Linked DNA regions of Homo sapiens: region 1 is linked to region 2. The links come from fine-mapping of genetic effects on gene expression. A gene starts in region 2. The other region holds a variant in brackets. All regions are shown on one strand. Distances are from middle to middle.

Region 1 (16,090 bases), 49 kb after region 2:
AGAGAGAGGTGGGAAAGAAAGGGAATAGAGAGAACAATGGGTGAAGGAAAAGAGAAGGGGAGGTCAGACCCCAGGGCTAGTGGCCAAGGAGATGCACCTCGGCGGTAACGCTAGAGCCCCACCAAGCATGTGTTTGTCCTCCCATCCCCTATGATTGGCACCTCCCGGGAGAGCTCCAGGTAGGAGATCTTGTAACCCAAGGCTCATCTGTCCCAGCTTCTGATGACAATAAATGTGTGTAGCCTCTTTTAGCGGCCGAGACAGCCTGACTATGGCACGTCCAGGGAGAGGCCCCGTGGCTCTAGTCCTGGGCCTGACTCATCCACCTTTGGTAAACCCAGCATTTTTTTCCATGTCCAGAGTAGGAGAGGCAGGGCATCCTGGTGAATTCCCAGAAGTCATCCTAAAAGGATTAGCACCTCTCTTCTTTAGCAGCCCAATAGGATCTATACCCAAGAGATAGGTCTCCCAAGCAAATACAGGCTGCCAGGAGAGGGAAATGGTGACCACCTAAGGGCTGCCATGCCTGGCTCTCATCCCCACCCTCACCCCACCAACTGCCTTAGTGGCCAGTGACATCAGGAGGAACCCTTCCATGCTGATGGTGCTTGTGCCCACCTATGCCAGTTCATTGAGCATTCTTAGAGAGGCATGACTCTTCTACATAAGCGAATTTTCCAAATTATTAAATTTGATCCCATCACATTGCAGTTTTAAAATTGTACCCTTTTAAATTAATTTCTATTCTATCAAATTTATCAAAATAATGCACAAATTCAAAATAGCTGGAAGAGATGATTTTGAATGTTGTCACCACAAAGAAATGACAAGTGTTTAAGGTGATAGATATGCTAATTACCCTGATTTGATCATGTCATGCTATATGTATGTCTGGAAACATCACACTGCACTGCATAAATATCTACAATTATTATGTATCCATTAAAAACAAAATAAAAAATAATGCATGCATATGGTTTAAATATCAGTTGTACTGAGAAGCCCATAATAAAAATCCCTTCCCCGCCTTTCTCACTCCCCCTCTCTATAGGCTGCCTCTTTCAACCATTTACTAGTTTCCATTTCTGTTTATACTATTTTTTGATCTACCGATTTTAGGCATTTGTTGACTTCTTGTGATAGATGAGGATTGAACTTTCCTACAGAACCATCCCCACTTTTCCTCTCTCCATCCTTCCAATAGGAACATAACACAATCTGTGGTTAACTCAATAGTGAATGTGGACATATTCGTCACTGCTGAGTTATGTAGCATCTTTGAGTCCTGGAAGATTTTCTTGTATTATTTATTTAATAATTTTCTTCCCTGTATTTTATCTGTTGGATCATCTGGATTAATGTTTTAGTTTCCTTATATTTTCTCTCCTACTTTTCATCTCTTTGCCTTTTTGGTCTACTTTCTTGGGAAACCTTCATTGACTTCATACTCCAACCCTTCTGTTGATTTTTTTTTTAATTTTGGCTTTCTTTTTCTAATATCCTAGTACTCATTCTTGTTCTTCCTGTTCTTTTTCAAAAATACCACATTCTTTTTTATGCATATACTATCTCCATCCTATTCTTCTTGAGGCACTATTTATTTTTCATTTGTCCATTTGTCTTAATAGTCTTCTAGTCTCTATTTTGTTTTTGTTTCTACCTGGAGGTGGCAGCGGCGGTGGTGGCTGCTTCTTGTTGTTGTTGTTGTTGTCGTTGTCGTCATCCTCCTTCTTCTTCTTCTTCTTCCTCCTCCTCTTCCTCTTGTTCTTCTTCTTCTTCCCTCTTCTTTCTTCCTTCTTCCTTTTTCCTTCTGCTTTCTTTTTCTTCTCCCTCTCTCTGTCTCTCCATCTCTCCTTGTTGGAGGCTTTCCTTAAATGCCAAATATCTCAGCTATCTGTTGGTATTTATTAATGGAGCAATAAAAGGCTGAACTAAACTCTGCTTGGGGAGAATTTATCAACTGGGGTTTCACTACAGGAAGCAAGACAGTCTTTTAGTTAACAAGCCTCCAATGAGCACCTTTTCTCTAGAGCTAGGTTTCTTAACCTTGGTACTAGTGACATGTTGGGCCAAAGAATTCCTTGTTGTCAGAGGCTGTCTCATGCATTGTAGAATGTTTAGCAGCACCAGTGACTTCTGCCTACTAAATGCCAGTAGTAACCCCCCTCCCAGAGTTGTGATAACCAAAATGTCTGTAAACATTGCCAAATGTCCCCTGGGGGACAAAATCACCCTGTTGAGAACCACCACCCTGAAGCCATTCAGCTCCTCAAGAGAAGCATTCTAACTCCTAGTTCTAGTTATTGAACGCTACATAACAAACCACCTCAAAACTTAGTAGCATAAAACAACAACCATTTTTTGGGCCACTGTCAAGGAGTCAGAAGGGCAATTCTCTGCTCTACGACGGCTAGGATGACTGGAATGACTCGAGGTGACTGGAATAACTGGGAGTTGGAACAGCTGGGGCTGAAGGGTCCACTTGTAAGATCGTTGTTCACTTGGCAAAGAGAGCTGGAAGGCTGGGCTCAGCTGGGACTGTTGACCAGAGAGACTACACATGATGTCTCCAGCACCATGGCCTGGTCATTGGACCTCTTACGAGGCACCTCAAGTCTCTGGTGTGAGTGTTCTGGCCAGCAAGACAGAAGCTGCATGGCTGTGTATGTCCCAGCCTTGGAAGTCACATAGCTCATTTCCACTGTAGTCAGAAATCCACACAGGTTCAAGGAAGGAGACACAGACCCACCTCTCCATTGGAGAAATGTCAAAGAATTTGCAACCATCTTTTAAATTCACCATACCCTCATCCAGAGTGATATATACCTGGGGTGGGGCAGGGCAAGGTAAGTGGGTGGGACATTGAGTCCCACGCTTCATTCTTCAGACTTTTCCCTCACCTCCCTGTTTTCATCCCTGTATTCATCTGCCCTCCCTCCTGCCTGTCTCTCTCCTGTTCAGTGTCTTTGTCTCCAGCTGTGTGGGGCAGGGTGTGGAGGTGAGACCTGGGGAGGATTTCAACCAGTTTCCTCCATTCATTACCCCCACAGGCTGCTGTACCTCAGCCCCACCAGCCACAACACCTGGACTCCCCAAGTCTGAGCTCCTCCTGCAGGGTTCCAGGGGTAAAGTGGCTTGCCTCCTGTCAGTGTGCCCCTCTGCAAGCCCTTCAGAGCCTAGCTTCCTCCATGTCAGTCATTATTCCTCCACCTGCCTCCCAGCTTCCTGTAGTTTGGGGAACTCTTTCAGCCACTCATGTCTCCTTTACCATTCTCTTTGCCTTTGAGAGTTAATACCATTTGGTTGGTTGGTTGTTTGAGACAGAGTCTCGCCTTGTCACCCAAGCTGGAGTGCAGTGGCACAATCTTGGCTCATTGCAACCTCTGCCTCCTGGGTTCAAGCAATTCTCATATCTCAGCCTCCCGAGTACCTGGGACTACAGGCATGTGCCACCATGCCTGACTACTTTTCGTATTTTTAGTAGAGTCGGGGTTTCACCATGTTGGCCAAGCTGGTCTCGAACTTCTGATCTCAAGTAATCCACCCTCCTCATCCTCCTAAAGTGCTGGGATTACAGGCATGAGCCACCGCGCCTGGCCCCATTTGATTTTTTTAAGAGACAGGGTATCACTTCATCGCCCAGACTGGAGTACAGTGGTGTGACCATAGCTCACTGCAGCCTCAAACTCCTGGGCTCAAGTGATCCTCCCACCTCAGCCTCCTGAGTAGCTGAGACTCCAGGTACACACCACCACACCCAGCCAATTTTTTTTTTAAGACAGGGTCTTGCTATGTTGCCCAGGCTGGTCTTGAACTTCTGGACTCTAATGATCCTCCTGCCTTGGCCTACCAAAGTGCTGGAATTATAGGCGTGAGCCACTGCACCTGGCCCCATTTGATTTCTAGACTAGCATTTTAGTGGTGCTTCAGGAGAGAAAGGAAACTAGGAGTGTAAATAACTGATGTGTTGAACTGGAAACCCTGTTGTACCTCTCTTGTATGGATCTATCTCTACATTGTGTTATAGTCTTCCCTGCCCTGTAACAGCTCTGTGAAGCAGTACAGTGACATTTAACCTTCTGTTGATCATTCAGAGTCCTCCTTATGAAAATACTTGTTTACCTTGGAATTATTAAGCTATTAAGCTATTACCTTGGAATTATTAAGTAAAGCTATTTGTTCTTCCATAATGAGGACCCCAGTCATTTTGCTGGGATTCTTTAAACCTTTCTTCGTGGCCGCCTCTGTCCCTGGCTGCCTTTCATCCTATGTATTTGTGGTGAGAGTGCCACATTACAGCACGTTAGCTTCTGATGTACTCTTTTCAAATGGCCAGCCCCGGTGACTCTGCCGGGCATTGTTTGTTTGCCACCCCCCCACACATCCCTGCTCCAGTTGATTTTCTGCTCTTTCCCACTCCTCCCAGGATTTGACCTTTGTGGATTCCATCAGCCAGGCTCCAGGTCCCCAAGCTTCCAGTTGGGTTTGGCCAATTGAAGACCCCTCCCCTGACCAGAGGTTGGAGGCTGGGAGGGGAAATGGGAGGTGCTTTATCCCCCCAGCTCCCTCCCTTGCCAGGTCTCAGGTCAATAGTGCCTGTGTTTTTCACCCTAAAACCACAGCTCCTGCCGGCAGTCCCCTCCTACTGGTCTCTCTGGGTTCCAGGAGCCCTCCCACCTCCTCCCTGGGGATTGGTGGTCACAGCTCCCACTGTTGCTGGCTGCAGGATGCTTCACCTTTCCTTGAGGGTTTCTCTTCATCTTGCTCACCCTTGGAAACGGTCCTTTCCTCAGTCTCTCCTGTTACCAGTGGAGTGTGCATCTGTTTCCTGCTGGGACTGTGATCAATACAGCAACCTTTTCTGATTTGCATCTAAAACAAGGATACTCAAGCAGAGAGGGTATCAACATTTAAAAAAATAAAACAAGAATAAATAGTCCCTGAGTGAGCCCTGAGAGACTCTCTTAGGCGAGAGTCTGGGTGTGAGCTTTGTGACTTCTCTAGGCTACGCAAGGGCTTTTGTTTGTTCATGTCGATGTTTTTAACTATAATGCAGATAATAGAGGGCAATAGATTAGTGACTTCTGTACTTACTGGAGTGATTTGAGAAGGAAAATAAGCATGTAAATCAAGGGAAGCCAGGATCACTCACTCTCCTGGTCCCAGTCAGCCCTCGTTTTTGTTTAATTTGTGTATTTCGAAGCACACATATCTCTAGGGAAGAAAATGAAATCAAGAACTCCTCCTGGCCACCGGTTTCCTGAAGCATGAAAAGGAAGCATTTCATAAATGCTTTGTAAAGAAGACAACAGGAAGGGGTAGTGTCACTGGCTGGCAAGAGCTGCTGTTGTGGTATTTCACAGACAAGGGAGGTGACGTGGCACATGGGGGCTGAGGTCCCAGCCAGAGGCCACACAGGCACAGGCCTCAGAGCCCAGGCCTCCCTCTGGCCTGTAGACCCTCAGCCCTACTGGACAGGAGGAAAAGGCCTAGGGGACATTGCCCCCATTTCACAGAGAGGAGGCTGAAGCCAGTGAAGCAGAGAGTTGCAGCTTCAGTGGGGAGACACTGTTATGCCCCGCCTGTCTTATTCATGCTTCTTTTACCTGTAGGGATTTTTTTTTACATGGCTACCCTTGAGTGATAGAGCCTTCATCAGCTTAGCTTGTCCTCTTGCAGCCTACGCCACTCTGTGCCCTTTAGCCAAGGAAGCCCAGCTGAGGCCCCGCAGCGTCCCTGCCCAGCAGAGCTACAGGAGGCCCGAGGCCCCTTCCTGTTCACTCTTGCTCTATAGACGCCACGCTGCAAAGCAGATGTGCAGGGACACCACCTGAAGACCCAGCCTGCAGCTCAGCCCTACACACTGTGGATGGTGGAGATCCCAGAGGGCCAAGAGAAGCTTATTGAGACTTCTCTGCACTGCCCCTCCCACAGCAGGAGGTTCATGGCCCATGCATTTCTGGGAGGGTTGACAGGGCCCAGGTTGTGGAATACCTGTCTGTGAGCCCCATGTCCTGTCTTGTCCCAGCTGCCTGTAGTTTGACAGAGTATGCTAGAGGTCAGCCATTGCTAGGGAGGCTGCCACTAACCACACAGAGAGGAAGGAAAATTCTCAGCCACAGCACTTAGAGCTGAGCCTGACATGGTCCTCAGCAAGATGTTGCAAGTTCCTAATCTGAACACAGAGGCCAGGGAGTAAGCATCATCTGGAGCCCAGAGCTGACTGTCATTACCCACAAACATAAACACCCTGAGTCTGGCCTTCTCCCCACCCTGCCGAGGTTGTCAGAGCCTCAGCACTGGCTCTGCCCTGGGTGGCAGCCCCTGGGAAGCCCAGCTGCCACCTCTCTACAAATGGCCCTGTAGAAGCTGTGCTCAGTGATCCACTTCCTGGGGGGGGCTGGGCCCACCTTGTTGCCATTACACCCCATTACAAACTGATGCAACCAGCTTTCAACAGACACTGCCAAGGAAGATACACATTACAACAGCATGCTGCAATACCTCTGCCTGTGCAAGAGACTGACCCACATCCAAAAAATGGACATCTTCCCACCCCAGTGTCTCACTCCACTGAGCTGGAAGTGGCCTTTGTCAGGACCCTGTGAGGTCTTGAGTGGATCTGCTTTTCCCAAGATATTAAACCAGTGACTTTAAATCCTGGCTGCATATTACCATCATCTGGGATATTAAAAAATACTGATGCCTGGATCTTGCTCCCACCCAAAGAGTCTGACTGAATTGATGGGGTTTTCAAACATTTTTTAAGTGTTTGTTGAAGGATGACATACATGCAAAAAAAAAAAAAAAAGCACAAACCATAAGTGTAAAGCTCAGTGAATTTTCACAAAATGAATTTACCCCGAGTAACCAGCATCCAAATCATGAAACAGAACATCACCAGCAACCCCTGGTACCCCTTCCACTTACTACCTGGCTCCAAAGGCTAATGTCCATTCTGGCTTCTAATGGTGTACAGTCATTTCTCCTGTTTTCAAACTTTATATGATGTAAATGGAATCAGGCAGTATATATCCTCTTGTTGTGTTTGTGAGATGATTCATCCAAGTTGTTACTTAGAGCTGCAGTTTATTCACTCTTCTTGCTATAGAGTATTCCACTCTATGGATATTCCTCGATTTATCCATTCTACTGTGATGCATTTTTGGATATTCGAGTTGTTATTTATAATTCGGAACTATTCTGACTATTGCAATGACATGCTAGTGTGTATTTTTGGAGTACATGTATATCCATTGCTGGGGAAGCATGGGTATGAGTATGTTCAGCTTTAGTACCTTATGCCAAATAATGTTCCCAGGTGGCTGTACCCATTTACACTCCCTCCAGCAATGTATGAGAGTTCTGGTTGCTTCACATTTTTGCCAACCATAGATATTTTCTATCTTTTTCATGTTAGCCATTCTGGCAGGTATGTAGTGGTATCACAGTGTGGTTTGAATTTGCATTTCCCTGATGACTAATACAGCTGAGCAACCTTTCATATGTTTGTTAGCCATTTAGATCTTCTCTTTGCAAAGTGCCTGTTGGAATATTTGGACATGAGTATTTTTAAAAAGCTCCTTAGGTAACTCTACTGTGTAGCCAAGGTGGAAAACCACTGAACTAAAACCACAAATTAGTATCTGCGTCTCCCTTTCTTCATGATTTGCCTTTGAACTTAGAGCATTTTGGATCTGAGAGGACCTCGTGGAACTGGGAAAAGATTATATTCACTCCCTACTAAGATGAGCCTGTCAGGAAGAAGCAATTGGAGCTGGCAGTTAAGAATCTTTAGGAATGTGACCTCTACTTCAGAAGGGTCCAGGGAGGGCCTGTGGTGTCCACAGCTGCCACAGACATTTCCTAACCACAAAAATGGCCCCTTGGTGGTCTCCCCAGAGCTCCAGGCAGTCATGGGGAGGAAGCGGAGGGCCCCATGCCAGGTACTTCCCAGTTTCTAGGCCAACATGAATGGGACACAGCTCATATGGGGTTGTGGTTAGACTGGGGACAGTGGAGCATATGTTCTGGGGACCTGGGTGTGGCCAAGGGAGGCCTCCTGTCTGTGGCCTTTGTCCCAGATTGGAAATCAGCCAGTGGGGCTCTCCTACATGGGTCCAGGCCTGGCTAGCTCTTGAATTCTGTGCGTTTGCATGTGGGTCCTTATGCATGCGTCCTAGAGCAGGGTCCCAGGGGGCCACTCCCCCCCCCGACCCCTTACTCCTCTAAGCTGGGAAACACGTGGCATGAGAGAACACACTGTGGCTTCTAATGACATCGTGTCTTGATTGCATCCCCATTGCATCATCTGGGCTCATCTCATCCCCACCTCTGGACTGTAACATCATCCCAGGGACTGCCGGACACTCATCTGTGCTCCCCCACAGAGAGTATAATGCCATTTGGTAATTCAGTACAGCCTCTTCCAACTTGAGAAAGAAGATGCATTTCCTTCCCTCAGTCTTGAGCTGTGCAGGTGTCACGCTGAGCTGCCCTGTGTGGGCTCCATGTTGGCACACATCGGTTGCAAGGGGCTCTGTGTAGTGAGTCTGGAGTTGGACCACTGGCCAGGCGCTGGGATGCTAGTGCCTGGACTGAGTGTGCACAGAGGCCCCTCAGGCAGAGCCACAGTGGGCGCTGAACCTCCTGGTGAAGTTCACCGCAGTAACTAGAGCTCAGTGGGAGGGGCTGGCCTATCAGCACCTGTCCTGTGTGCTTTTTGAAAAGAGCAGGGTCTACCTTCTGTCAACTGAAGTCCTGCCAGCTGCATGGCATGAGATGAGGGACAAAGTGGCACGTGAACAAAGTTGACATTTTGGAGGCTGTTAGGCTCAGAGCCAACCCTGGGCTCCATGTAGTGCCATGACTCATGGATTCAGGCCCATCTTGGAAATTGCTCTGGGCGTAGAGCTCTCATTTCTGATAGTCCAAGTGCAGATATTGGGGTTCCTCTAATTGGCCCAAATGGTGGCCTGCACCAACCAGCGACCAGAGTGCTGTCTGAATCTAGAATAACAGGAAGAACACGCCTCCAGCAGTGTAGGAGAGTTCCCCATGCAGTGTGCTTCCCATTCTTACCAGCAGTTGGTATCTTCTGTCTTTTTCACACTGGCCATCTGAGTCTCATAAGGAGACTCCTCTCCTTCCACTGAGCCTGCATCCCAGCCTCTCCCCTTTCTTCAGGGACCTCTCCCCAGCAATTACGCCCTTCCATTCTCTCAACCAGGGAATCTTCAAACTCTTCTTCTCCACTGGCTCCTGCTGTGCTCCTGTCTCCATCACCTGTATAATGCTTCCTGCCATCCTGCCTTCCCCGTGGAGTACAGCCATGCTGTCTGCTGCTTACAGCCAAGATTCTGGAAAGAAATGTCTCCTTTTTCCTCGTCATCAACCACTCATTTATTCAGCAAGTGTTTCTTTTACACTTGCCTGTGCTGGGCATGGCAGCAATGCAGCAGTGAACAAAACCATCAGCCCTGCTCTCATGCAGCTTATAATCAAGTAGAGAGACAGACATAAATGATTAATAGATGCTCCTGTAATGGTGGTTGTGAGGTGTGCTGCCACAGCCCAGCCACACACGCCAGTTCCCTTCTCTGCACATGTACATGTCTGCTCATCCTTCCCACCTGAACTCATGTGCCACCTCACTTATGCCCCTTCCCAATGCCGCACCCACACAACAGGGTGTCCCTCTGTGCCCACAGCAGCCCTTGGGTATAACTGTTCCCCACAGAGGCTGAACCCCAAGGGCAGAGTCCAGGCCACACTCACCACGGAGACCCCTGCCTGGCACAGAGCCCAGCCCAGCAGAGATGCTCAGAAGATGAATGAAAGTCCCTGCTGAGATTGATCCAATCTGTTTGTGAACATCTCTGGGGTCCAAGAATTCAC[G/A]GCTTTCTTTTTCTTTAGAGAGCCTTTTGTTTCTTTTTGCCATTATATACTATATTTGGGTTAGGGCACAACAATGTGAATATACTTAATACTGAACTCTACACTTGAAAATGGTTAAGATGGTAAAGTTTTAAGTTATATGTATTTTGCCACAATTTTTTAAAATGCAGAGCATAGGTACAAAGAAGGAAAAAAAGGGGGCAAGGTCCATTTTATTGAGAAATAAAGAACAAAGGGTTCAATTCAGAGAGGATTGGATTTTAAAACGTAATTTAGATTAGGGAAATGCAAATGAAAACCATAATAAGTAAGATACCACTTCACATCTGTTAGGATGGCTATTTTAAAACAACAAAAACAACCTGAAAATAAGTGTTGGCAAGGATGTGAAGAAATAGATACCCTTGTGCATTGCTATTGGGAACGTAAAATCATGCAGCCTTTGTTGAAAACAATGTGGTGGTTCCTCAAAAACTTAGTTATCATATGATCCCGCAGTTCCACTTCTAGGAATATACCCAAAAGAATTGAAAGCAGGGACTCAAAGTGATATTTGTACACCAGTGTTTGTAGCAGTATTATTCACAATAGCCAAAAGGTGGAAACAACCCAGATGTCCATGACAAGAGGAGTGGATAAACAAAATATGGTGAATATGTACAATGGAACATAATTCAGCTTTAAAAAGGAATGAAATTCTGGTACATGTTATAACATAGATGAACCTTAAAAACATTATGCTAAGTGAAATAAGCCAGACACAGAAGGAAAAATACCAGATGATCCCACTTATATGAGGTACCTAGAATAGTGAAATTCATAGAGACAGAAAGTAGAAGGATGGTTGCCAGGGGCTGGAAGGAGGAAGAACAGGGAGATACTGCTTAGTGGATGCAGAGTTTATGTTGAGGGTGATGAAAAAGTTCTGGAGATGGATGGTGGTGATGGCTGCACAACAGTGAGAATGTACTTCATACTATGGAACTCTGCACTTAAAAATGGTTAAAATGGATGTAGACATTTTATGTCTATTTTGCCATAACAAGAAAGTAATTTGGGTGTATTTTAGAGATTTTAGAAAATACTGTAAGCACAAGAGGAAAAAAATTAAAATCATTCGCAATCACCAGGTAGAGACAACGACTGTTGAAAGATCAGTGTGTATCTTTTCATTCTCGTTCTCTCTCTCAAAAAAGTGTGTGTGTGTGTGTGTGTGTGTCTTCAGATGTCACACTGGACTTTCAGGAAAGGTTCCCCTCTCTGCTGCTTCCCTGCTGGAGCCATGGAGAGCAAGTCTATCCCTGTTCCATAGGTCAATCCTTTGAATGATTTCTCATGGCTGAGTTCACTCCCCTGCACCTCCAGGGTTGCACTTCTCTGAAAATACTCATTTATTTTATGTGTCTACTAAAAACATGGCACCCACGACCCAATAATATGTTGGAAGGGGTTGGAGAGAGAAACGCGAGTACCTCTCACACCTTCTCACACACTACACATCTTAGCGATGGCCGAGTGAGCATGTTGGCTCTCTGGACTCCTCAGTCTGTTGGTCTGGGCTGCGCCAGGCTCAGGCTCCCTGCCTCCCCCCCAACCTTGATCCCCTTGCTTCTTGAACCTGATGCTGGGCCTCACATTCTCCGTTGATTCTAGCTCTTAAATCCTGCTTCTCCAGCTTGTCAGGAGGCTGTGCCCTCACACCCCAAAGAGCAGATCTGCCCTCTCCACTGAGAGGGAAGGAGTGAAGGTCCCACAGCCTCTGACCCCTGCTGGGCCCAAGAGAGGAACAGCTGCTTGCTTTATTTCTCGTGGGAGAAGTGTGTCTCCTCTTTGTCTCAGGCACCCCTCTGCCCTGTACAGCAGCAAGTCAGCAGGAATGAGCTGAGCCGCCCAAGTAGTGGCTCCCTCCACTATGGGGGCTCTGTGGTCCTGGGGGCTGTCCTGCCTCCACTGCCATAGGCCTGGCCCCAGAGCATGCTGCAGTGGTCACAACCTGTGGAGGTGCCCCCAGACCCCCATATTTGGGCCCAACTACAGCCTCCTTCCCCAGCTTTGCCACCTGGCTTGGGAGCCAGGGCACCACCAGCTTCACTGGCAGGGAGAGATGAAGAAAGAGGCCATAGCCACGCAAGTGACTGAAGTTCATGTTCGTGCACACCAATTAGAGAGGGACAGCACGTTCATTTACCTCCAAATCCAGCCACAGACACATCGCCCTTTTCTCTTGGCTCTGAGGCCTCCACAGAAGGGTTTTTTAAGGTTGCAGCCAGGACCTTTATAGCCTAGTCCTGAGAAGATTATCTTTTTATTGCAACTTTGATTAATGATTGATCAAAAACTGATACTAGAAACACTGAAGAACAAATTTGCTGTAGACATTAGGAAAGGTCTACATCTGGCAGGCCTGGAGACCTGCCCACCCTCTCCCCCCACGGTCAAACCAGGGCAAAGGTACATTGGAAGACCCAACCCCTACACACTCTTACACGTGCACTCGCACACACACACTGAGGGGAAAGAAATATTTAATTGTCCTTAAATCCTCTTGGATTAGGCTATAAATTGCAAATAAATGGAGCAACAGACAGAGCAAAAGCACATAAGGTCCTTTAATAGAATTTCTCTATCTTATTCTGTTTCTATGAATGCCTGTTACAAATTAGCAGCTTAAAGGGAAACCTGGAGTGTGGGAAAGAGCGACCCTTGTGTGAAGTCCACAGCCGGGGTTTCCTACAGACCTCAGGTCCCAGAGAACATCTAAGATGCCTCCAACACCAGATGGAGGAGGGCAGGAGATGCTGCACAGAGAAGCAGCACTTCCCGAGCATCTGTGGCAGGAAGTGACTTGGAGAGGATGAGGCCGTGCCTCAGGTGTGCTCTAGCTGTTCTGATGGTCTCTGAGGCCACGACTGCCATGGTGAGGTCCACAGCCTGCATCAGAATCACCAAAGGGCCCAAACGTACGGCCTCAGAGCCTGGAGAGCCAGGAATCGGCATTGCAACAACTCCCTGCTCAGTGGGTTCTACCAGTCCAGTACCTGCCCTCTGAGGGTGCCCAGGGAGCAGGGTGCTTGCTGGCTGGAACACTTTTTCCTGCCCCTCAGCTCCTCTGTGATGCCCTGAGGCACGGGCACTGGAAAGCTGGCAGAGCTGCTTCTAAATTGAAACTGGAAAATGAAACTGGAAATCACAGTTTCATTTTCCAGTTTCACTCGCTCCCCCTACTGTTGGGGTTTCTTTTCCACAAGGAGAGTCCCCCAGGGAGAAAGAAGCAGGAGTGGGAGTGGGGGAGCATGTTGGGGGAAGGCAGTGAGGGTGTCCTGTCTGCAGCAGGGCATGGAGGGGCCCCAGCGCTGCACTTGCTTCCTTTAAGCCTGGCCTGCTTGCTGTCAGCCCCGGGGGTGGTTTCCTCTCTAGGAAAAGCTAATGTCATGCTTATGCTGAAAAACTCTTTTCAGAGGTACTTTAGGAGGGGCCTGGCTCTCGATTAATCTGGGCCATTTCATACCGGCTGTGCTCACCCAGGCACAAACACTGAAAGCAACAGCTGGCAAAGCCATCGCTTGGTAGCAGCTTGGAAGACACCACCAAAGAAGCTCTCATGGAAGCGGCAGATTTCCTGAAGCGACTGGAATGCGGGGAAGGAGGGCAGTCGGGGAGAGCCGAGAACCAGCCCCCCTGCCAACTCCACCCCATTCCTCTCCTCACCTGAAATGTCTCATCCTTAGAACAGCTGCCCTAACCCCCTAATCCCACACACTCCTTTGTAGGTTAAGACCCCTGAAGTTGCACCCTCTCGTAGGAGCTATGTTTTTCAGAGATCCATGTGATTATTTGCCTAATGTCTGCCTCCCTCAGGGAAGTAAAGTCTGTGACGCGTGGACCTGGTCTGTGTTGTTCACTGTGCATCCACAGTGCCTGGGTAGTGCCTGGCATGCAGGAAGTACACACAAAAAATATGTGTTCATGAGTGAGGGCAGGCTTGAAGAGCCCAAGAGAAGGACAGTGCTCCAGGGAGGCGTCTGCATCAGGCTCCCCAGTGTCTGGACTGCATCCCAGCCCCTCCGAGCAACTTCAGGGGAGGATTCTGTGAACAGATGCCCCAGCTCTTCCGCCCACAGCTCCTACCCCCAGCCTGAGGAATGCTTTGACTGTCCCCAGTGTGTGCAGGCAGTGGGGAGGTGATAGGGGGAGGTGTCCCACATGGCACACTCTCCCTAGCCCTTGCTTTGCCTCCGTTACCTACATAGATGGGCTTCACAGCCTCTTCCAGATAGGCAGGGCACTGAGCTCTGTGGGCCACACCTAAAAAGAAAGGGAGACAAGCTGGCGGTGGGGGCATGACAGTGTTTTTGTTTGTTTGTTTGTTTTTTGAGATGGAGTTTCACTCTTGTTGCCCAGGCTGGAGTGCAATGGCGTGATCTCGGCTCATCGCAACCTCTGCCTCCTGGGTTCAAGTAATTCTCCTGCCTCAGCCTCCCGAGTAGCTGGGATTGCAGGCATGCACCATCACACCCAGCCAATTTTTGTGTTTTTAGTAGAGACGGGGTTTCTCCATGTTGCTCAGGCTAGTCTCGAACTCCCAACCTCAGGTGATCCACCCACCTCAGCCTCCCAAAGTGCTGGGATTACAGGCATGAGCCACCGTGCCGGGCTGACAGTGGTTTTTAAAGGGGGAGGGCAGATGAAGGACGTTGGTGGACCATCCTCTGGGAGGAGATGTGGACTGAGGAAGCAACGCTGACCTCAGGCCCCACACCACCCTTTCACCTCAGCCTCACTTTCTCATCAGTAAATGGAACTCGTTCTTGTGTATGTGCCATGGAGGCAATGTAGCAGAAGAGAATAGGGCAGACTTTGGAACTCAGCCATCTGGGAGAAAATCCTAGTTATGTGATGACCTTGAGCCAATGACTGAATTTCTCTGTCTCATTTTCTCTTCTGTAAAATGGGGACAATTACAGTGAATTCTGTGAATTCATTCATGTCCCTGACACATGGTGTGAGCTCAGTCATTACCTTTGCGAGGGTTGCAAGGATGTAATGAGATGGCAGATGTGAGCACAGCTCCCAGACCCGAAGGTGCTGTATGAATGGGAGGGAGCAGTGAGTGTTATTTGGGAAATATTGAAGACACAACTTCCCTCCCACATTTGTCTGGGGTGGAGCAACAGTTTTACTTATTTAATGATAAGCTGGAAGATGCACCAAAGGGAGGTGAAAAACTGAAACCGCCAACCGTTTGAGCTCCAGGCTGCACCGAAGCGGTGTGGCTGGTGCAGATGGTGAGAGCCCCAGTGCCGGCCCACTTCCTCCATGAGTGCCACACGCCTTTCTCAAGCTAGCCGGCTTCCCAAGGCTGCAGGAAGTGGGGCCAGGAACAGGCCCTCCGGCTGTGTTGGGGGAGGCCTGGGCAGGGGTTGGCAGCTGCTGGGTGTGAACGGAAGTCTTGGAGGTCCTTGAAGGTCCTGGGGCCGCCTGCACAGCAGCCCCTGCCCTCTCCCTGTCCAGGCCTGCCCAGGACTAGCTTGTAGCAGACTCTTCTTGTAGCCTAGGCTCTTGCCTCTTGCAGTAGTGAGCCATTGTACAAAAGACATCCAGCGGAGGGAGGCAGGCTGGAGAGGAGGACAGCCGAATCTTTTCTCAAAGGAAATGCAGTTGTGGTTTTGAGACGTTCATATTTCACATCTGTGGTTGGCGTTTCCCAGGGTTCTCAGAGGTGAATGCAGGGTCAGCCCTGTGTCACCAAATAAGGCTCACAGTGACCTTAGCAACAAGCTTTGCTGCCCATTGGCTGTCACTGCTGCCGCCTGCCAATGCGGCCTCCTGAAGGCCAGCACTGATGCTGAGCTGAAACTTCTGCATGTGCCAAGGTCCAGCTGCCTCTGTCAGAAATCACCGTCCTTGGAAGCAGCCACAGATAGGTAGAGAGCTCCGGACAAAGGTGGACAAGGTCAGTGGGAGGACTGTCCAGGTGTCCATGTTTCAGAGTCCACCTGGCCAGCATTCCATTCTCACATAGCACCAAACCAGCACCTTGGTGGCCTGGTCCCAGCTTGCCAGGACAACCCCCCATTCCACCCTGTCAACCTTGAACTCTATAATGGTCATCATTTCATAGCTCTGCTCATTTTAGTTCCACTGGGTTCTCCCTTGTGCTTGGCACTTGACTAAGCTCCTTCTACACATTACA
Region 2 (16,090 bases):
AGGCAAGGGAAAGAAATAAAGGGTATTCAATTAGGAAAAGAGGAAGTCAAATTGTCCCTGTCTGCAGATGACATGATTGTATATTTAGAAAACCCCATCATCTCAGCCCAAAATCTCCTTAAGTTGATAAACAACTTCAGCAAAGTCTCAGGTTAGAAAATCAATGTGCAAAATTCACAAGCATTCCTATACCCCAATAACAGATAAACAGCCAAATCATGAGTGAACTCCCATTCACAATTGCTACAAAGAGAGCAAAATACCTAGGAATCCGACTTACAAGGGATGTGAAGGACCTCTTCAAGGAGAACTACAAACCACTGCTCAGTGAAATAAAAGAGGACACAAACAAATGGAAGAACATTCCATGTTCATGGATAGGAAGACTCAATATCGTGAAAATGGCCATACTGCCCAAGGTAATGTACAGATTCAATGCCATCCCCATCAAGCTACCAATGACTTTCTTCACAGAATTGGAAAAAACTACTTTAAAGTTCATATGGAACCAAAAAAGAGCCCGCATAGCCAAGACAATCCTAAGCAAAAAGAACAAAGCTGGAGGCATCACGCTGTCTGAATTCAAGCTATATTACAAGGCTACAGTAACCAAAACAGCATGGCACTGGTACGAAAACAGATATATAGACCAATGCAACAGAACAGAGGCCTCAGAAATAACACCACACATCTACAACCATTTGATCTTTGACAGACCTGACAAAAACAAGAAATAACAAGAAATGGGGAAAGGAATCCCTATTTAATAAATGGTGCTGGGAAAACTGGCTAGCCATATGTAGAAAGCTGAAATTGGATCCCTTCCTTACACCTTATACAAAAATTAATTCAAGATGGATTAAAGACTTAGACGTTAAGATCTAAAACGATGAAAACCTGCCAGGCGCAGTGGCTCACGCCTGTAATCCCAGCACGTTGGGAGGCTGAGGAGGGCGGATCATGAGGTCAGGAGATCGAGACCATCCTGGCTAAGATGGTGAAACCCCATCTCTACTAAAAATATAAAAAATTAGCCAGGCGTAGTGGTGGGTGCCTGTAGTCCCAGCTACTCGGGAGGCTGAGGCAGGAGAATGGTGTGAACCCAGAAGTCGGAGGTTGCAGTGAGCCGAGATTGCACCACTGCACTCTAGCCTGGGCGACAGAGTGAGACTGTCTCAAAAAACAAAAACAAACAAACAAAAAAACACCATAAAAACCTAGAAGAAAACCTAGACAATACCATTCAGGACACAGGCATGGGCAAGGACTTCATGAATAAAACACCAAAAGCAATGGCAACAAAAGCCAAAAATGACAAATGGGATCTAATTAAACTAAAGAGCTTCTGCACAGCAAAAGAAACTACCATCAGAGTGAACAGGCAACCTACAGAACAGGAGAAAATTTTTGCAATCTACCCATCTGAAAAAGGGCTAATATCTAGAATCTACAAAGAACTTAAACAATTTTACAAGAAAAAAACAAACAGGGGCAAAGTATATGAACAGACACTTCTCAAAAGAAGACATTTATGCAACCAATAGACACATGAAAAAATGCTCATCATCACTGCTCATCAGAGAAATGCAATTCAAAATTACAATGAGATATCTCACGCCAGTTAGAATGGCGATTATTAAAAAGTCAGGAAACAACAGATGCTGCAGAGGATGTGGAGAAATAGGAAAGCTTTTACACTGTTGGTGGGAGTGTAAATTAGTTCAACCATTGTGGAAGACAGTGTGGCGATTCCTCAAGGATCTAGAACTAGAAATACCATTTGACCCAGCCATCCCATTACTGGGTATATACCCAAAGGATTATAAATCATGCTACTATAAAGACACATGCACACGTATGTTTATTGTGGCACTATTCACAATAGCAAAGACTTGGAAGCAACCCAGTTGTTCATCAATGATAGACTGGATTAAGAAAATGTGGCACATATACACCATGGAATACTATGCAGCCATAAAAAAGGATGAGTTCATGTCCTTTGCAGGGACATGGATAGGCTGGAAACCATCATTCTCAGCAAACTCTCACAACGACAGAAAACCAAACACCACATGGTCTCACTCATAGGTGGGAATTGAACAATGAGAACACATGGATACAGGGCAGGGAACATTACACACCAGGGCCTGTCAGGGGGTGGGAGGCTGAGGGAGGGGTAGCATTAGGAGAAATATCTAATGTAAATGACAAGTTGATGGGTGCAGCAAACCAACATGGCACATGTATACCTATGTAACAAACCTGCACATTGTATACATGTACCCTAGAACTTAAAGTACTTAAAAAAATATGCTAAAGGGCCAGGCACAGTGGCTCATGCCTGTAATCCCAGCACTTTGGGAGGCCAAGGTGGGCAGATCACCTGAGGTTTGGAGTTTGAGACCAGCCTGGTCAATATGGTGAAACTCTGCCTCTACTAAAAATACAAAAATTAGCCAGGCTGGTGGCACATGTCTGTAATCCCAGCTACTTGGGAGGCTGAGGCATGAGAATCACTGGAACTTGGGAGGCAGAGGTTGCAGTGAGCTGAGATTGTGCCACTGCACTCCAGCCTGGACAACAGAACAAGGAGACTCCATCTCAAAAAAAAAAAAAATGCTAAAGGGAGTCTTTCAGGCTAAAATGAAAGGACACTGGCCAGTAACTTGAATACTTGAATCTGCATGAAGGAATAATGAACATGGGGAGAGGTAGATACCTAAGTAAATATAAAGGGCAGTATTAATTTTTTTCCTAACCTCTCTTTTCCTACATAATTTTAAAAGACAACTGCATAAAGCAATAATTAAAAATTTAGGTTGATGGGCATACAATGTGTAAAGATGTAATTTGTGGAAATATAATATAAAGGGAGTAGAGCTGAATAAGAACAAAGTGTTTGCATATTATTGAAATTAACTTGGTATTAATCTAAACCAGGTTGTTACAAATTAATATATGAACTGTAATCTCTAGGGCAATTATTAAGAAAATAAATAAATAATATATACTTTAAAAAGATACAGATTTAGAATTATCCTAGAAAATATGGATTTAACACAAAAGAAAGCAGTAATGAAGGAATTGAGGAGCAAAAAAGATAAAAGACATAGAAAACAAATAGCAAAATGGCAGGAGTAAGCCCTTTTCAGTAATTATATTAAATGTAACTCTTCAATTAAAAGGCAGAGATTCACCAAATAGATTTTAAAATCATGATGCAACTATTATGATGTCTACAACAGTTTCAATTTAGATTCAAAGACACAAATAGGTTGAAAATTAAAAGGTTGGAAAGATCTTCCATACAAATAACCAAAAGAGAGTTTGAATGGCTGTATTAATATCAGACAAATAGATTTTAACAAGACAAAGAAGGTCATTATATTACGATAAAAGGGTCCAAACTTCACATATTTTTAATGCATTTCAACTCCTGATATGACACACTTTTAGCTCTCTATTTCTCCTTGACACTCCTGCCTCCATCCATACGTTGTCCTGCTTCATCTCTGATTATCCCAATTCTATTCATGTTCAAGGTTTACCCCATGACACCCTCTTTCTTGGAGGCACTATGGCTTTGGCTAAGTGCCCAGATCCAGAGTAGATAAAGTATATGGTCCAAAAGTAGATGTCTTCACTTACTAGCTCTATAACTTTGGGGAAGTCACTTAACTTTCCTGAGACTGTTTCCTCAACTGTAAAATTCCTTACCTATATCAGGTTTCTATAAAGATTAAATTAGATCATGCATGTAAATTATAATGTAATTATTGACTCTACAAATAATTAGTCCTTATCATATTATGCTTGGTTCCATGAGGGAAATTGTAACTACCTTTGGCGGAAAAGACAGGCTTATCCCTAAGGTGCTTAAGTAGTACACTCACTGTACATTTGGTAGTTTTAAAAAAAAAAAACTTAACAAATGCTTTTACTCATTCATCCTTGAATGAGAGACACAGCCCTCAGCAAAACATCCTTCATGAAGCCCACACCTACTTCTTTCTCTTTTTAGACCAAGCAGACTAATAGTATCTGGGCTTCCTGACAGCTTGGGAACAAAGCATGTAAACTCGCCTACTGTCAGCCTCCACACCACCATGAGATGGATATGGGCTCCCTGGGGTGTGCAGTTGGTGAGGGAAATGCTATACTTGACTATGACTGAGTGCCACGTTCAAATATTCATGTAGTACTCATGATTTGTGTTCAAGCCTCCTTCCATGGGAAGAACCAGCGGTGGACCTGAAGAGCTCTGCCTTCAAACAGATGATTCACTCAGAACAGGTTGCTGGTGACTGAACCTCAGTGACAGGGTCATCCTTTGACACCCAGCTCTCCAAGGGCACCTTGCTCAGGGAGGCTAAGCTCAGAGCAAAAGTGCCTTTTGGAGTGCTAGCTTCTTTCTACCAACAATGACAGATTTCCATCTGTGCTGCCAAACATGTAAGTTCTTTCCTTAAGGAACACTTATAAAAGATGACTTCCAGGCCGGGTGCAGTGACTCACACCTGTAATCCCAGCACTTTGGGAGGCTGAGGTGGGTGGATCACCTGAGGTCTGGAGTTCGCCACCAGCTTGGCCAACATAAGGAAACCCCGTCTCTACTAAAAATACAAAAATTAGCCAGGTGTGGTGGCGGGTGCCTGTAATCCCAGCTACTTGGGAGGCTGAGGTAGAAGAATCACTTGAACCTGGGAGGCAGAGATTGTAGTGAGCCAAGACCACACCATCACATTCCAGCCTGGGGAACAAGAGCAAAACTCCATCTCAAAAAAAAAAAAAAAGACTTCCTTTTCCCAGAAAACTAAGGGCCCCCCTACATCAAAATTATTTCCCTTTGGCTGTTCAGGAACAATTGCTCATCTCCTTTCGATTTTTTGACTTTTAACTCCTCCTCAAGGAAGTTAAGGGATGTTTTTTGCTATTGGTAGGTTGTGCTTTTCTAGAGGGAAATAGTTCTAGTATTGAGATCTAAACTGAGAATTGCTGATTATCCATGGAACAAGCATTTTAAAAACAAGACCAGACCCTAGCTCCCACAGAGGACATGGTTGATAGCTTAGTACCAAAGCACAAGCATTATCTTCTGAGTGGGAAAGCAGATATGGAGCTTCCTTGCCCACCTGACACCTAAGCCAACATGTGCAGAATTGGAGCCCTCCAAAACTTGGGCCTCTTCCAAGGTTCTCCAAGTCAATGAAGGGCATCATTGTGTCAGCTTGGGTCCTCCTAGAGCAGACACCAAGATGGAATTAAACCTGGAAGAGTTTATTGGGGAAAATGCCTATGAAGAATAAAGAGGAGCAGAAGCAAGAGTAAGCAGAGAGAGCCCCACACCGTAATGCAGGTCTGACCCCTGTGAAAGAGAAGAGGGAAGGATGGAGGAGTAGATAGGAAGAGCCTCAGACTGCAGAGCCATTCTGAGAAAGTGCTGGCCAGACTGACAGGAAGCCCCAGAGTACAGGTGGCCCATTAGAGGAGTTTTGCCTCTGGCATTCCCTCTTATAGCGTCAAATGCATCTTGTAGTATTTAGGATGGCATTCTATATTTGACCAATTATTTGATTGCTTTATTACCTCACTCAAGTGTGTTTCCCGAGGGCAGAGACCACATTTATTTTTGCTCATCACTGAATCCCCAGCATTAGCAGGGTGGCTGCATTTTGTAGTTGCCACAGAATATTTGTTGAATGAAATATCTAAAAGGGTTATTTTTTTCATTTTTATCTGAATCACACATCAGGTATTTTTTTTTCCTAACCAGTGACTCCTAAGTTAGATGCTGCTTGCACCATGCTTTCATTCCATTTATATCATTCTTCAGCTGGGTTGCGTGATCATCAGCTGTGCCCCGCCCCCCAACCCTCCATTGCCCGATTCTGTAGTAAAGTCTTTTGGGACTGGCCTTGGACTTGGACTTTTGCTTCTTTTGTGTCTTTACTGACTATCAGTGCAGGCCTGGATAAAGTTCTTGTTGCAGAACTTGCTACTGCACAAACTTTTGTTCCAGGGTTAGATCAGGAAGGATAGTAAGGAAAACAGAGCTGTCTCCAAAAGGTGGGATAGAAAGCTGTCCTTTAGAAGTTAAATTATAAATCAAGCCAATCAGAGCAAAGATACAAAATGTCTCCATAAAGAAAAATAAGGGCTGAGAGACCTTACTGAGTAATGTTACTCAGTAACGCCTTGCTCTATCTAAAAATGTCCATCTGAGGAGAGGCGGCCTGGGTACCATAATACAGAGAGCCTCATCGACACAAACAGATGGTGTCCACCAGGCCCCATCTAGGGAGAAGGGCTGGCCAGGCCAGCAGGGATGAGTGAACAGTACTTCCTATAGGTTTTGACCTGTGTTGTGGAAAGAGACATCCCACATTGCCCGAGCCTGATATCATCAAACATTTAAGTCAGACAATTCACTCTTCCGATTCTGATTTTAGGCTCACTAAGCCACCTTCTGACTATGGGGCTCCAAACTGCATGGCTACAAGAAGAGAATGTGTTCATCAGGTGGCCTCGAGTCCAGTGTTCCCGACAGTCTTGCTTCTAACAGGAATGGATAAGCTTCAGGTTTTGGGGTCAGATGGCCTTGATTCAAACCCTGCCACTAACATACATAGTAACTATGTGACCTTGGGATTTCCTTCATCTTTTTTTCTCCCAAATGAAAAATAAATAGATTATAATATACCACATGATAGTAGGGAGAAATAATGAGGTAATAATGCATGTAATGCATTTAGCATAGCACTTCTCTAGCAAATAGTGAATGAAATCAGTCAGTTGTCATTCTGACTTTATGCAACAGTGCTAATCGACTCTGGTACACTGGAAGTCAGATGAGATTTTTGGCCCCACAAAGTCAAGGACCAAACCTGGACCTTGGGAAGTTGCCAAGATGAAAAACATCAGGCCGGCCTTGACCTCCTGATGCTCTCTGTTCACATGTGTGATGTCTATAAAAGGTAACCAGGATTTGGCTTATCTGCTTACATCTCTTCCTGTCTTTTCCTGATCTTCATCTTCCCAAACATAGTTTTTATGCAGAAGCAGATTTAACTCTACTTTGCTATCTTGGAGTCAAGAATTGTCCTATAAGGAGGAAGAGGCTCCAAGGCTTGCCTTTTTTGTTTTTTCTTTTTCCTTCATACTACAGACTAAAAGTAGCATCTTCTGGACAGAGAAACAGGCTGTTGTTTTTCTAAGGTCATCATTTGGCCTGCCCCACTTTCCCACCTGCTCTTGAGGGAACTATTGCAAGGACACATACAAGCCCCTACATCAGTCACAGACCAGGGCCTCCATCTTGCAGGGAATGTGCCCAAATTACAAACAGGTAAACCAAAGTGACTCTGGGCAGATTTAATAGCTCATTTTGGTTTCTTGTTCCAGTTATAACAGACTGCTCTGTGTTTGCTCTATGGCAAAAACTTTTATGTTTGCTTTGCAACAAACGTACAGACAGGGCAAACTGTGTTTGGAGTATGGTGTCTTACCAATGTTTTCTAAAAGCAAGTGAATAGAAATGCTTGCAAAAGTATTTTCAGACCTCAGTGGCCAGCGCTGAACACCGCTGTAGGAATGTCCATCAAACGTTGTGGCCATGCTCCACTCTAACAAAAACCTGGTTCCGTGGCATAATTGTGGGGGCTAATTGTCAGGCTAAGTTTCAGACACCTTCCAAAAAAAATTGCAGGGCTTCCTCAGTCTTTAAACTCCAGATAATATTGTCCAAACTTTGACAACTAACCTGTTATCATGGAGATAGCTCCAAGTTGATGGACTGGCCATTAGAGAATGTCTATCAAGCATCCAGGTAAATGACTTGGTTGCTGCCCTCAAGGAACCCACTTAGAGGCTGTCAGAAAATTTTAAGTATTTTCTTCCTTCTATTGTTCATTCCTAAAATTCTGGCAGTAGGTATGATTATTATTATTCCCATCCCACAGGGGAAGTAATTAAGTCTAACTACTTGAATATTTTGCCCCAAATCACTGACAGTAAGAGACGGCCAGACACTGAAACCTGGAATCTCTAAATGTTTAGATATTGATGGGCACCGCTTAGACCAGGGAGTCCAAACCATAGGCTTGCTGTTCCAGTTTCTCTTATCGGATGAAGGGACCCCCATTTCACCGACGTCATTGACTTTTGGGTTCTCCGCTGACCCCAGATGAGATGCCTGGTACCTCATGGTCAAGTCCCCTCCAACGGGGACTCCTCAGAGGCTTGGTCCCAGTTGCTCAGGCTGCCATCTGCCTCCTCAGGCCAGAGCCCGAGGCGCCGCCAGCGGTCAGGTCCCGGGCCGGCTGCCAGCCACAGGCCCAAGTAAACGCTGAATGAAGGGCAGATGGAGGAACCTGTCCCGGTCGGCCGAAGCGCCGCGGGCGCCTTTCCACTTACGGCGGGCCTGCCCAGCCTCCCGCCCAGCCCGGGCCCGGGTCCCGCCGAGGCAGGTGTGCGTGGCGGACTAGCTCTCGGGCACTCGGCTGGCCCAGCTCCACCCCGAACGCCACCGGGCCAGGCCACGCGCAGACCCGAGCCCGGGGCCCCCGCCTCTGGCTGCCGGCCCGCGCCCGCCGCGCGCCCCGCGTTCACTGCGCGCTCGGCCCCGGTCCCGCCTCCCGGAGGGTTTCGCTTTCGCTTTCCTGCCGATGTCGTTGAGGAAAATGAAAGCGGTCGTGGCCAGGACTGGCGCAGCTGCCGTTTCAGGCGAGGGGCGCAGAATGCAGCGGCCGCCAGCCTGGAGCGCGGGCCCTGGGGCCGCAACCCGCGCCGGGCGAGGTAAGCACAGCCCCTTCGCGGCCGCCTCGCGGGCTCCTCCTTGCGGACCCGGCGGGCCCGACGCCAGGCGTTTGACCCGGGCAGGGTCAGGGGTTCTGCCGTGGGGGCGGGGAGGGCCTGAGAAGCGGCACCCTTGGGTTTCGTGGCTTTGAGCCTCCAGGCCAGGCTGGAAGACCTGGGAGGCCTCAGACAAGCGTGCCAAGGGGCTAGCAGCCCGGGGTCGAGCTGGAACCGTGGCAAGTCGGGCCACCTGAGCACGCCTTTCCCTTTTGTAGAGCACCGACCTCCCTGGGTGTTGGTAAAAATCAAAAGTGGGAGGGTGTACGTAAAATGCTGAACAGAATGCCTAACCTGAGCTCATAATCTACTCCCTCTGACCTGTCAGACTCATTTTTCCCACTGGGCCCCACCCCATACCTCATGTAGTTTGCTTAAGTTTCCTAGATCTGGTGCACCTGGGGGCACTTGGAGTGCCTTCCAAGTGTTCCTTGACCGAGCAAGCTGGCAGCTCATCTCCCTTGATCACGGGCATGGAGAGCAACTAGGCCAGGATGTGGCCCCCTTGCCCTGGCCCTGTCCATGTGAAGTCAGGGCCTTACTCTGCTGGGGCCCCCATCCCGGGGCTAGCATAGATGTCAGGGATAGGTGCACTCACAGACCGAGTCCTTCCCAGACCAGGAAATTTCCAGTCCACTGCATCTGCCAGCAGAAGCATGAAAGATGCGTGCCACCTTGTCTTTGCCCTTCGTCAAGTATAGCCAACTCATTCTTGGTATGCAGGAAGGGGGTTCCACCCCAGGGCTGTGGAAACAGCCCCTGCCCTTAGGGCGTTCCCATCCCCTGAAGAGAGAAAATATGTATTCAAGTTACCCATCAGGCAGGTTGTGTAGAACAAGGACAGGTGAGTGAAAGAGCTAAGAGCTGAGAGTAAAGTGACTAAATCATCAGAAACTTTACATTTAAGTTATGACAGGTTTTGCAGGCCAATACCAAGAATCCCCTTTAACTCAATTTTTGTCTCAATAATAATGAATTCAGCCTAATCACACAGATCTGATCATACGGCCCATTACTGAAACAAAACTTGAATGATCTTTACTTTGAGAAAACCATCTGAATTTGACAAAAGATGGTCTAAGTTCCTAAGTTTCAAAACATGGAGTCCGCCGCTGCCCTACCTCAGCAGGATGGTGTTGAGTACTGATTGCTTTTAGAAAATGCTGCTCTTGCCGGGCACGGTGGCTCACGCCTGTAATCCCAGCACTTCAGGAGGCCGAGGCGGGCTGATTACCTGAGGTCGGGAGTTTGAGACCAGCCTGACAAACATGGAGAAACCCCGTCTCTACTAAAAATACAAAATTAGCCAGGCATTGTGGCACATGCCTGTAATCCCAGCTACTTGGGAGGCTGAGGTAGGAGAATTGCTTGAACCCGGGAGGCGGAGGTTGCAGTGAGCCAAGATCGCGCCACTGCACTCCAGCCTCGGCAACAAGAGCTAAACTCCGTCTAAAAAAAACAAAGAAAGAAAAAAAGAAAATAGAGAAAATGCTGCTGTTTTCATGAGCCAGAAAATTAGATGCACTTCCATTCACATTCCATTGGCATGGACTAGTCTCATGGGTCTCACCTAATTGTAAGGTGGCTGGGAAATGTAGCCTGGTGGTGTTCCCAGGAGGAAAAGAACGAGAGACTGGTGAGCACTAGTAACCTCTTCCACAATCGACTAATGTGGTGAATTACTTTATCATGATGTATTTGTAATACACTTTCGTATTTGATTAGATAATATTTTATTTAGGAGTTTAACATCTATGTTTATAAGTGAAACTATCCTGTATTTTTCTTTATTTGTACAGTCCATATTTAACATTTCAAAATCAAGTAACAAATTGGGCAATGTTTTCTCTTTTTTTCTATTTTCTAAAGCAACTCCATTAAGATAGAGATTTTCTGCTCCTTGGAAGTTAGTAGGAGGCACTTGTAAAATCTTCTGGGTCTGAAACTCTATGGGGAAGAGGTTTCAAAATTATTTGAGTCTCTTAAGTGGTTATTCACATTTTTGTGCCAAATTTGGCAATTTTTATTGTCTAGAAATTATTCATTTCATCTGTATTTTCAAATGTATTATCATGTGTTTATATTATTCCTTTATAAGTTTTAAAATGTCTGTTTTATTTGTCATTTCTTCCTTTTTCTGTAATCTCATTTTTAAAAAATCTTCTGTCAGTTATTCTTGATCAGTCTCACTAGAGGTTTGTCTACTTTCAAATAAATACTTCAAGTTTTGTTAACCACCTTTTTTTTGGTCCTCTATGTCCTCTATTTTGCTGATTCTGCCCTTATGTTTATTATTCCATTTTTTCATGTTTCTTTAGTCATATGCTTTTGTAATAAATTCAAACAGTATAGACATTTGTAAAGTGAGACAGGAAAGTCCACTTCAGCCTCCATAGGCAACCACAGATATCATATTGGTGTGTTTTTCTGGACCCTTTCCTATGCTTATACAAATATTTTTCTACAACTTTCTAAACTGAAACTCATAGGTAAACTGCTCTTTATAGGCAACCACAGATATCATATTGGTGTGTTTTTCTGGACCCTTTCCTATGCTTATACAAATATATTTCTACATCTTTCTAAACTGAAACTCATGGGCCTCTTTCTGTGGTGTATACACACACATACACATACATACACACACATACACATCCATTAAAATGGAATACATACCATAATTTATCCATTTTCCATTTATGGGCATTTAGGGTGAAAGTCTTGGTCTTTTAACAATGGAATTTAATTCATTCATATTTATTTTGATCACTGATAAATGTGGTCTTATTTTTGCCATCTTGTTTTGCCATGTATTTATCATGTGTGTTTTTTTTTTCCTTGTGACTCTATGGATTCATCAAAGTGTATTTGTCCCCTGTTTCTTCTTTCCTTCTTTTTATTCAGTGAGTTGGAAGTTCTATATCTTACAATAGGCCATCATTTAGTTCTTAAGCTTAGATAAACTTGTATTTTTGTCTCTGGCAAAAATTAATCAGAACCTATAACCTCCTTCCAAACATAATAAATCTTTTTTTTTATTTTTTGTTTTTGTTTTTGTTTTTGAGATGGAGTCTCGCTCTGTCACCCAGGCTGGAGTGCAGTGGTACAATCTCAGCTCTCTGCAACCTCCACCTCCCGGGCTCAAGCACTTCACCTGTCTCAGCCTCCCGAGTAGCTGGGACTACAGGTCCCACCATGCCCAGCTAATTTTTGTATTTTTAGCAGAGACGGGGTTTCACCATGTTGGCCAGGATGGTCTCAATCTCTTGACCTAGTGATCCACCCGCCTCAGCCTCCCAAAGTGCTGGAATTACATAAGTATGTTTTCTCACGTCTCTTTTTCCTTACCTTTTCCCCACAGGCACATATACACATAGGTATCTGCCTGGGAATTATTAAAATAACCTGAACAATTCCAATTGTTATTAATTCTTCTTGCTTCAAAATACAATTTCCTTTTTCTATGTTAGAAATATTAACAATTGCATTAATCTACAATCTAACCTATTTGTGCAATTGCATATTATACCAGGATAGGAAAGTTTAAACATGTATTTCTTTTAGACTTTTCATTGAATTGCTGAAAATTCATAGTGAATTGTATCTTGAGTAATGCTTCTCTGAGTCTCTTATTTCCCAAAAGTATACTTTGGAATCCATGCAATTCTGATCGTTGTTTGACCTTTGCTGGCACAAAGGCATTCTGAAATATTTGCAAATGCTAAAGTCACTTCCTCATCTTTTACAGAGTTTACTTCAGCTTGGTGAAACCAAGTGCAGTATCAGTTTGTTGTAAGCTTACCACTAATTAAAGGTTCATAAAATAGCCCTGCCCTAGGGTCAGGGACTAGCTAGAAGAGCATGAAAATAGCCTTTGAAGATTCAGCTGCTGGATATTTTACATCAAAAAGCTGAAACGTTTTAACTATTTTAATATTTTGTTTATAGTACTTAATATTTGTGAACGTGAAGTAAAATGGACACAGTCATAGTAAAACTGTGGTAAAACTAACTTGGATGGTGTTTGGGCTGTGGTTATCAGAAGCTGCTTAAAGTGTCCATGCCTTTTATCCCAGTTCTACTTCCAGGAATATGTCCTAAGGCATGTTTTCATATGAGGTTATTTCAGGTGGCGCAGGGTAATTCTAGTTGGGACACATTTGCCACATTGTCTAACACTGACTCACAGTGAGAAAGTTATTCCCATGCTCAATTCCTTTTCAGTCTTCTGATCAACGGAAGGTGAAAAACTTTAGCTTGGTGCTAGCATACCTTTAACACCTCTCTAAGCCTCTCTAATCTCCCATTTTATATAAAAGAATGGGCAAAGGGGTAGCAGTATTTTGACTATATTTTAACCACAGTGTTTTTTTATTCCAATAAAACCTATTATGATTGCCTTCATTTATGGCATATGATGTTGGTTTTCCACTTAAATAAGGTTTGTTTGTTTGTTTGTTTGTTTTTTGAGACAGAGTCTTGTCCTGTTGTCCAGGCTAGAGTGCAGTGGCATGATCTTGGCTCACTGCAACTTCTGCTTCATAGGTTCAAGCGATTCTTGTGCCTCAGCCTCTTGAGTAGCTGGGACTACAGGCACGCACCACCACACCCGGCTGATTTTTTGTATTTTTAGTACAGACGGGGTTTCGCCATGTTGCCCAGGCTGGTCTTGAACTCTTGAGCTCAGGCAATCCGCCTGCCTTGTTTTCCCAAAGTGCTAGGATTACAGGTGTGAGCCACTACACCGAGTCAGGTTTGCTTTTAAAATACATTTGTTTAAGGACAGAAATGAGTTGATGTAAAGAGAAATGTTAAGTACATTACAGATGGTAATTAATTATAGCAAAATAGTAATGGCAATGCATGGATGTAGGAAATAGGACCCTAAGGAAATAATCAGAGCTATAGACATAGATTTATATCTAGGGATATTCCCGTAGATGAGGAGGTTCCTCCCAATGACTTATGTTACCATAAAGTTAGAAACTACTCAGTTGTTCAGCAATTAGGGATTGGTTAAGTGATTTTCCTACTTTCATATGATGGAATACTAGCATTATGAAAAACTGTATTTAATACATGGAGGATTATATACTGTTATATAAAACTGGTTATAAAAGTATATACAGTATTGTAATTTTGTTAAAAATGAAGTATGAGTGTGTGTGTGTGTGTGTGTGTGTGTGTGCGCGCGCCTGTGCCGAAATCAATGGGGAAAAAAGACTGGAAGAAAATATTTCCAAATGGGTTATCTCTGGATCATTGGACTACAGGAGTTGTTTGTGTTTTCCAGTAATAGACATGTCACTTTTGTCACCAGAAAAATATATCTATTTTTAAATTAACATGCTCCTACACTGACAGGACTACCTGGTATTTTGTCATCTGCAGGCATTCCTGGGTCCTTTCATGTTCTTACAATTCAGTTAGGTCCCTGTGGCCTGCTGCAACATCATGGGGAAATAGTACGGTTAAGACGTCATTGTCATCTCTCAGTACAGTCCAAGGTACTTGGTTTTGGAGTGTGCATATTTATATTTTTGGAGTAGAATGGGAGAATGTTTCTAAAATTCTCTCGAATAATTTTTATTGCTTTTTCTTCTTGACAGCTCCATTAAACAGGACCAAATTAGGATCCCATTTTTTAAGTAGGTCTGGATTATTAAGCAAGAATAGAGTAGACGCTGAGTCTCCTAGTTTCTTGTTTAGTCTTTCTTTAATTTCTGCATTTTCTGCTGACCATGAAGTTTTTAGATGTTAGATTTAATCATGGTTCTGTATCACCTGTGTTGGAGATGTGTATATTTAAATCTGGACACCTCTCTTCCAGAATTACAAAATCTCTGTTCACGGAAAAAAAAAAAAAAAGTTCGCTGCAAGGCTTAATGCTTGGCAGAAATAATTGCTACCTTTTGCCTAGTAAAAATTCCCCACGTGTTCTTTCTTAGGGCTTGTTCCTGGAGACTCTTGAACTTTTTTGTGGGAATGGGGTTGGCAGGTTAAGTGAGTAAATGGTGCATCTGCCTGGGAGTGGTCTACAGCCCTGGTGTGAGCTTCCTCCTTCTGTAAAGCTGCTGGGCTGTAGCCAGGGTGAGCCAGCCAGGGCCTGAGCCTGAAAGAGGCCTGTTGTGGCATTCCAGTAACATCTGCCAGATTGCAGCGAGACCTTTGACTGGTCAGCTCTTCCCCTGCTGGGGTCCTTCAACTGCACCACTCCTCTCCATCCCCACGGCCACCACTGTGGTGCAAGCTCTCACACCTCTTGCCTGGACCACAGCAGTGACCTCTAGCTGGTCCCTGCCTCGCCTCGCCCTTACGTCCAGTCTGGTTTTTTACAGGAGCTAGTATGTCCTATTCTCCTATTGCTGCTGTAACAAATTACCACAAAATCAGTGCCTTAAAACAACACAAATTTACTCTTTTAGAAGTCCTGAAATTAAGGCTTTGGCAGGGCTGCGTTCCTTCTGGAGGCTCTAGAGGAGAATCGTTTTGTTGCTTTTTCCAGCTTCTAGAGGCCACTGCATTCCCTGGCTCAGGGCCCCTTCCTCCTCTTCGAAGCCAAGTCTTTCTCGTGCCACATCATTCTGAGGCTCCTCATCTGAAGTCAGATCTCCCCCTGCCTCCCTCTTATAAGGACACTTGTGATTATGTTGGGCCCACCTGGATAATCTCCGGTTCTCAGGACCCTTAACTCGATCACATTTGCAATGTCCCTTATGCCATATAGGGGAACATACACACAACCTCCAGGGATTCACACATAGACATCTTTGGCAGGGCCATTACTCAGCCTACATAGATAATCTTTTAAAAGTACACATCTAAATGCATTAATCCTCTGCCTAAGACCCTTGTGTGGTGCTCCAGTTCTCCAGGGTTAAGGCTCGAACTCCTCTTGTGGCTGGGAGTGTCATGCAAGGGTCACCTACACTGCTTCTCCAGCTTCACCCTGCCTCCTGTCCCTGCCAACTACCCATGATCCAGCCTGTGCACAGGGTGTGCTTTTGACAGGGACACTGCTTGATATGGTTTGGATGCATGTCTCTTCCAAATCTCATGTTGAAATGTGATCGCCAGCATTGGAGGTGGGGCCTGGTGGGAGGTGTTTGGGTCATGGGGCTGGATCCCTCATGAATGGTTTGGTGCCCTCCCCGAGGTAATGAGTGAGTTCTTACTCTGTTCAGGCGAGAGCTGGTTGTTTAAAGGAGGCTTGGCACCTCCTCCCCTTTCTTGCTCCTTC

What was found. PIP is the estimated chance that this variant, and not a neighbour inherited with it, causes the effect.
Region 1: its variant is fine-mapped to the expression of CARINH in whole blood (TOPMed, PIP above 0.99).

What each region holds. Positions count from the first base shown.
Region 1 is chr5:132,451,333-132,467,422 of GRCh38, forward strand. All of the region lies in intron 3 of CARINH (colitis associated IRF1 antisense regulator of intestinal homeostasis), which reads left to right. Among named protein-coding and RNA genes, the nearest start is that of IRF1, 31 kb to the right of the region's middle. RefSeq lists enhancers at 1-7, 5,081-5,751, 5,752-6,421, 6,349-6,578, 12,644-13,608 and 4 more and a silencer at 4,610-4,802. The variant G/A (reference allele first, on the strand shown) is at 9,898.
Region 2 is chr5:132,402,249-132,418,338 of GRCh38, forward strand. CARINH (colitis associated IRF1 antisense regulator of intestinal homeostasis) reads left to right here and starts at 8,681. Exons shown (of 4, transcript NR_161242.1): 1 at 8,681-8,793. RefSeq lists an enhancer at 8,030-8,079 and silencers at 8,320-8,619, 8,690-8,979, 13,382-13,570.